2 linked regions of the Homo sapiens genome follow. The protein of the gene in region 1 interacts with the protein of each later gene in a pairwise test. Each region holds a gene or a part of one and is shown on either strand. Other genes may lie near its edges.

Evidence for each region. Proteins that work in one complex are often made in the same cells at the same time.
Region 2: the proteins of SSX1 (region 1) and LHX4 interact in a two-hybrid assay, tested with the Homo sapiens proteins (one study listed by BioGRID).

What each region holds. Positions count from the first base shown.
Region 1 is NC_000023.11:48,261,744-48,265,581, reverse strand, and holds part of SSX1 (protein SSX1), read right to left. Parts: intron 3,817-3,838; coding exon 3,767-3,816; intron 1,801-3,766; coding exon 1,665-1,800; intron 1-1,664. UniProt on the Homo sapiens protein: Could act as a modulator of transcription. Plays a role in spermatogenesis.
Region 2 is NC_000001.11:180,261,264-180,264,763, reverse strand, and holds part of LHX4 (LIM/homeobox protein Lhx4), read right to left. Parts: intron 1-3,500. UniProt on the Homo sapiens protein: May play a critical role in the development of respiratory control mechanisms and in the normal growth and maturation of the lung. Binds preferentially to methylated DNA.

The sequences.
Region 1 (3,838 bases):
CAATGTTCTGGGGGTAACAGGAACTCCACCTAGAGAAGATAACGAACGTAATTGATCAATGTTGTGTGTATTCTGACTGCTCCACCAATGAGCTCTTCCCCATCTCTTTTCCTTTTCTTGGGCCTACCTATTCCCTGAGATACAGCGATACTGAAATTAGGACAGTTAACAATCCTAAAATGGCCACTAACTGTTCAAATGAAAGGAAGAGTCGCATTCTCTCACATTAAATCAGAATCTAGAAATGGCTAAGCTTAGTGAGGAAGGCATGCTGAAAGCCGAGACAGGATGAAAGCTAGGCCTCTTGCACCAAATAGCCAAGCTGTGCATGCAAAGGAGAAGTTCTTGAAAGAAAGAATAGTATATAATGCAAAGGAAAAGTTCTTGAAGGAAATAATAATACTAATACCCAGTGAACACAAGAATAAGAAAGCAAAACAGCCTTACTGCTGCAATAGAGAAAGTTTGAGTGATCAGGATAGAACATGAAACCAGCCACAACATTCCCTTAAGCCAAAGTCTAATTCAGAGCAAGACCTGAACTCTCTTCAAGCCCATGAAAGCTGAGAGAGGTGAAGAAACGTGTGAAACTAGCAGAGGTTGGTTTGTGAGGTTTAAGGAAAGAAGCTGTCCCCATAACATAAAAGTGCAAGGTGTAGCAGCAAACACTGATGGAGAAGCTGCAGCAAGTTATCCAGAAGATCTAGCTAAGATCACTGATGAACGTGGCTACACTAAACAACAGATTTTCAATATAGATTAAACAGCCTTTTATCGGAAGTAGATGCCATCTAAAACTTTCATAGCTAGAGATGATTGACTCCAACTTTGAAAGAAGTTCTAAAGTGGCTAAATGCTATCGAATAGCATCACATACTACAGAGAAATCTTTCATGAAAGGGAGAGCTAATCGATGTGGCAAATTTCATTGTTGTGTTCTTTTAAGAAACTGCCACAGCCACTCCACCCTTCAGCAACCACCACCTTGATCAGCCAGCAGCCATCAACACCGAGGCAAGACCCTCCACCAACAAGAAGAGTGTAACTCACTGAAGGCTCAGAAGATTGTTAGCATTTTTTAACAATAAATTATTTTAAAATTAAGGTATGTACATTTTTAGACATAATGCTATTGCACACTTAGTAGAGTACACTATAGTGTAAACATAATGTTTTTATGCACTGCGAAACAAACGAAAAACAATGTGTGTGACTCACTTTATTGCAGTGCTCTGGAACCCAACCTGCAATATCTCTGAAGTACACCTGTATTGGGTATCAGGCATTGAGCTGAGTAAGATATGATCCCAGGTTATCACAGATAGAATCGCTTGAGCACCTTTCATGTCATCAGGCCTTCAGGATTTAATTTAATGCCTCCAAACAATTTACGAACTATGATTCTTTATTTCCATCTTATGGACTAGGAATCTGGAGCTGAGAAAATTTGGAAGACTTGTCCCAAGTCACGTGGTTTTTTATATGGATGACAACTCCAGTCTGCATCTCTGGAAGTCATGTCTAACATCTCATCTGGAGCTGGGCGAGCTCTTCAGCCCAGCCTGGACCCAGGCTTGTCTGGGATCCATGCCACACACCCAGTCCACACACCTGAACATAGCCAGAAAAGCCAGAGAAGTTGTTCCCAAATCATTTCCTCTTACCAGATCTCTTATTAATCTTCTCAGAAATATTTGCTTTTCCTGGGGGGTGCAGTTGTTTCCCATCGTTTTGTGGGCCAGATGCTTCTGACACTCCCTTCGAATCATTTTCGTCCTCTGCTGGCTTCTTGGGCATGATCTTTATAATGTGAAGGTTACAGATAAACAGTATCAGTGACATTTCTATAGTGCTTTAGAGCTTACAAAGCGTCTTCACATGCATTACCTTAATGAATGTTCTCAACAACGCGGGGAGAGTTACACTTGCCTAAATGAGACAAACCTGGGAGATTAGAAGCAAAAGGAATGGCCTAAATGAATGCAGTTTCCAGGGCTAGAATGCTTATCTTCACACTCTTTTAAGACTGACATTCGTGGAAACAGCAGAAATCTCCATGTAGTTGAGAGTGTAGTACACAGAATATTTGGAGAAAAATAGCATTCTAAGAATTCACAAGGTCTACAAAAGGAAGAGCTTCTATAAAATACAAGGGATCCCATATAAGCTCGTAGACAGCTGCTGGGAGAGTAAATGTAAAAACATAGGGAGGGGACAAAACACTGCTGGGAAAGATGGTGTGGGGAGATGAATACAGGGAAGGGAGAGGTAAAGAAATGGTTTGCTGAAATTAATCTAGGCAGCAAAGAAAGCAGTACCAGATCTGGCATACCACCCTACCGAGGCACCAACATTGAATGTGGAATTCAGTGAGGTGGTACCCATACCAATTCTGGTTACACTGGGATGTGTCACTGACCAACAATATTAAGCTACTCTTTTTTTTTTTTTGACAAAGTCTCGCTCTGTCACCAGGCTAGAGTGCAGTGGTGCGATCTTGGCTCACTGCAATCTCCTCCTCCCCGGTTCAAGCGATTCCCCTGTCTCAGCCTCCTGAGTAGCTAGGATTACAGGCAGGCGCTACCACGCCCTGCTAAGTTTTGTATTTTTAGTAGAGATGAGGTTTCACCATGTTGGCCAGGACGGTCTCGATCTCTTGACCTCGTAATCTGCCCGCCTCAACCTCCTAAATTGCTGGGATTACAGTCGTGAGCCCCCGCGCCCGGCCCTTAAGCTACTTTTTACTCAGCTTCCTCACTTATGAAATAGTGAATAATACATGTAAAATAAGCTAAGGGAAAATCCTCTCTGAGCTTGTAAACATTGTTCAAATGTAATAATAATAACATTGAATACCTTTCTGGATCCTTCTTTGAATTCGTTCTCCATACTGGCAACCCAACTCCCAGATCCCTTTACCTTCTAAACCAGAGCTGAATCTGCACTTCCAGAATCACTCATTCAGGGGCCTCTGAGGGATCCCCTGGGCTGGGACTGGGGCTTCTCGGATGCCCCAGGTGCAGACAAAGCCCTCAAGGAGCTCAAGGAGGGGCCAACAGTCAAAGCGATTCCTAAGCCATGGGAGTGGCCCCGGTAACAGAGCAGAGGCCAGCTGGTCCTTCCTGTTGCGAGAGTGGGTGTCTCAATGGAAGCACCAGTAGGCCCTATGGGGTAAAGCCCTAGTGAGCAACATCTGAACTTCATAAACAAATACAAACGTGAATGAGCTTTAAATGGCTTGGAGCTCTGGATTAGACTACCACTGACACTGTGCCCCAGGAAAATTCTTTAACATCTCTGTACCCCGATAGCCTCATTTTATTATTATGTTGCTGATAACTATGGTCTATAACATGAACTATTATTCTTTACTTCCATTTCATGGACTAGGAATCTGGAGCTCCGATAACTTAGAAGATTTGTGCCAAGTCACATGGCTTTTATATGGATGACAACCGAAGTGTGTGACTCATTACTATTTGGAGATAATAAAAGAAACAATGTCATAGAGGTCTTCTTATGGATTAAATTAATTAATCCATGTGAACTGCTTAAAATAGTATCTGGCATCACTATGAAAACAAAAGAAGTATTAAGGATCACAACTGTTAGTATTATCAAGCCGTCGGTGCTACATAAGTTGTTGTGATAGACATGGGGAGAAAGAGGCAATGAGGGCGTTTTTGATATTCTCCCTGTCTTATCAGTGTTCACATCCATGAAAGGAAAAAGGTTCTCTGGTCCTTTAGATTTGAGAGATACTCACCTTCGGGATGATTCTGTGGAGCCTGCCGAAAGTCATCTGAGGATGTTCAACTGAAAGAGAACACATCAGAAT
Region 2 (3,500 bases), on another chromosome or scaffold:
AGCAGGAGTTCTCTGCGTGAGGGTCAGCATAGGCCTGTAAACCACCTGCTAAGTTGTTCAAAATTGTGCCTCAGGAGGGGACCTGGGTTTTCATCAGATTCTTAAAGGGATTCAGGACCCAGGAAAGTAGAGTTAATATTTGTTGAATAAATAAATCAGCAGATAAAGCACCATACTTGTAGAGGATGTGCACGGAGATGGCCGAACCTGAGGATGTAGAACAAAGCACACAGTCGGCTCTGGATGGTTCTAGACCTCCCAGAACACAGGTGAGAACCAGGTCCTCCACAACTGCTGTGTAACCACATCACCTGGATCAAAGAGGAAGGCTGGCAGGCACCCACCTCTACTGTGTGTGTGTGTGTGTGTGTGTGTGTGTGTGTGTTATGTGTGTGTGTATAACAGAGAAAGGAAGCCTACACATGTGTTACTAGAGAGTGTTTTCAAAAGGCCTGTATATTTAATATCCAATCCCAGCCAATTTGCAAAGCAGGTACTGAAATGAAACAAGGCACCAGGTGTGGTGGCTCACGCCTGTAATCCCAGCACTTTGGGAGGCTGAGGCAGGAGGATCACTTGAGCCCAGCCTGGGCAATATGGTGAATCCCTGCCTCTACAAAAAATGCAAAAAATTAGCCGGGTGTAGTGGTGTGCACCTGTAGTCCCAGCTACCTGGGAGGCTGAGATGGGAGGATCACCTGAGCCCAGGGAGGTTGAGGCTACAGTGAGCCAAGATCACGCCACTGCACTCCAGCCTGGGCAACAGAGCGAGACCCTGTCTCTAAATTAATTAATTAAAATGAAACAAGGCTTTCATCATGCTTGTTGCGAACCCTCCCAACAAACCACGCAAATCTGGAGAATGTGTCCTAACCAGAGATCCAAGGAGAGGAGGGCTGAGAGGAGACCCCGGAACAGAGGGAAGACCCTTCAGCAGCCTCCTCCACAGGGGCCACACTCTCTCCCACTAAAAAGCAGGCAGGGGGCTTTCAGTCACCGGAGGCCCAGCTGACACCAGCACACCAGAGACATGAAAGATAACGGGGGTATAAATTTAATCTACATACCGACAGTGATTCATGCATGAGGGTGGCAAGTGCACAAGAAAAATGAAAAATAAGTGGACTTCCCCACCAGCGTTTTTTAGCAATTGAAGCAATTTTCCTGATTGTGGGATTTATACTGAAGGGAAGTGGAAGTGGCTCCTCATTACCTTTTCCCCTGGAGCACAGCCAGCGGGACCCTTGCCGAGGGAGCCGCATGCAGCACCTCCTTGGCCCACAAGGCTCCCCCGGCCCAGCCCAGCCCTGCAGATCACCCTCCACCCCATCTCCAGTCAGAGCCAGTGTATCTAGAATACAGGGCATCCTACAGGGGTGTGTCTGTGATGGAGACACTGTCCCCATTCCCAGATCTTAGAATAGCCAGAGTCACAGGTGAGAAGGCCAAAGCCTGGCAGGTCACATGACTTGCCCTGCGACAGGCAATAATGAGACACACGGTCATGCCTAGAATTCCCTGGCCCCACACGAGGTAAAACTGTGAACCCGGCTGCTACACAGAGAACCAGAAGTCTAACCAACTGGACCAAATATGAAGGACGCTGGGGTAAAGAGGGAAAGGCTGGACTCCAGCCAAGGAAGAGGGCTCCCAAGGGCTTTTCCAAGCAGCACCCCTTAACACCGATCACCGGGCACCCATGCAGGGGCACCAAGGGCACTGGCCTCACCCTTCAGAAAGATAAGCCTGCTGCCCAGTCCTGCTAGCCAGGCCTCTGGGGACAACCAGTCCCCCCAGGAGAGCAGCTGGAGCTGATCCAAAACCACAGAGAAAATGCAAGGAAGACTTGCTAATGGCTCATATTATTTTCATCCTCTAACCAACACCACTGGAAATTGTCTTATCCCTGCCCAGCACATAGTAGGCAAGCCACAAAGACCCAATGAATGAATGAATGAATGAACGAATGAGCAAACGAATGAGTGAACGAACGAACTGCTTCTTAAAACATTTGCCTGAGTAGTCAGGGGAGGCTTGGCTCTCCATAATGGCAGCTCTTTTCTTTTCTTTTTTTTTTTTTTTCAAGTTTGGTATTAACTTTGTTCTATTTTTGGTCTAACTTTAAGTACCTAAAGATTTATTTCCACAGGCCTCAGAAAATGGGTAGAAATCACAGGACAATCCCTCTTCCCACCAAAAAAAGTTGCATACTTTGGTAAGTGTTTATCCTAGAGGGAAAAAGCTGAAATTTACATTAGCAGTGCTGTGCAAGATTCTGACATAAATCACGACCTCAAACCAGCCTGCAGTGGAGGTTCTAGTCTTCTGTTCAGGCACTTGGACAGAAGCCATAGCTGATGAGCATGACAGGGAAAAGGAGGCAGTAAAGACAGGTGACAGGCACCTTGTAGGGAAGGAGGATTCAGGAATGCCAGGCTCCTTGGAATGGTGTGCTGTTTTTCCTTTTTTTTTTTTTTTTTTTCCTTTCAAAGTCATCTCTGTAGGAAGGTGCTGGGCAGCGATCCCAGAGAAAGAAAGGTCCAAGACTCCTTTAACTGTCCTGGATGAAGGGCAGTGCTACAGCAGCTAGTACCGGAGACTCTCCTATCTCATGGTTGAGGCAGACCCAGGATAGAATAGAGAATAAAAGGAATGCTTATAGGAAACCATTTTGCATGGAATGCTAGATGGCCAAGCCTCAGCCTTTGGTCCAGTGCAACCCTTGCCTCACTTGTCAACAGTGAAAAATTAGTTTGGTTAGAGGAACCATCTGGAAACACACCAGCTTCTGCTAGCTTCATGTTCATTGCTAGAAAAAGATTAACCAGTGTGAACATTCTGATCTGTTAATTCCTGGGATTGTTTTCTTCCCGAAGGACTGTTTGTTGGTAGGATAACCCCCAAAAGCTCAAAGCTAAAATGCATCATCAGTCCTGGTTGGCAGTTCCTTAAGAATGGACTGGCGGCGTGAGCGAGCTGATATGGACAAGCTGCCCCTTCCTGCAGAACATCAACTGACCTACTATCTCACCCCAAATCTCTGCCTGAGGTATATTTCAGTGAAGGCAGTTAGTTGTGCTTCTCAGAGCAGAGAAGCAGTTTTAAGCTCTTTTCTTTAGGGGTGAGGGGATCTCACTCGGTTGCCCAGGCTGGAGTGCAGTGCCACAATCATAGCTCACTGCACTCGAACTCTCAGTCTTCCCACCTCGGCCTCCTGAGCAGCTAGGATCACAGGCACATGCCACCATGCCCAGCTCATTTTTTAAGACATGTTTTGTAGTGATTGGGTCCTACTATGTTGCCGAGGCTGGCCTTGAATTCCTGGTCTCAAGTGATCCTCCCACCTTGGCCCCCAAAGCACTGGAATTACAGGTGTGAGCCATCCCCTTTGCCTCTGCTGTCATTAGCTTCCCCTCTGCTGGCTCCTTCCATCCATGTACAGGCATGCTATGATCCCTGCCTGCCTCCCTTCTCTACCGCCCACTCCCCGCACCCTTCAG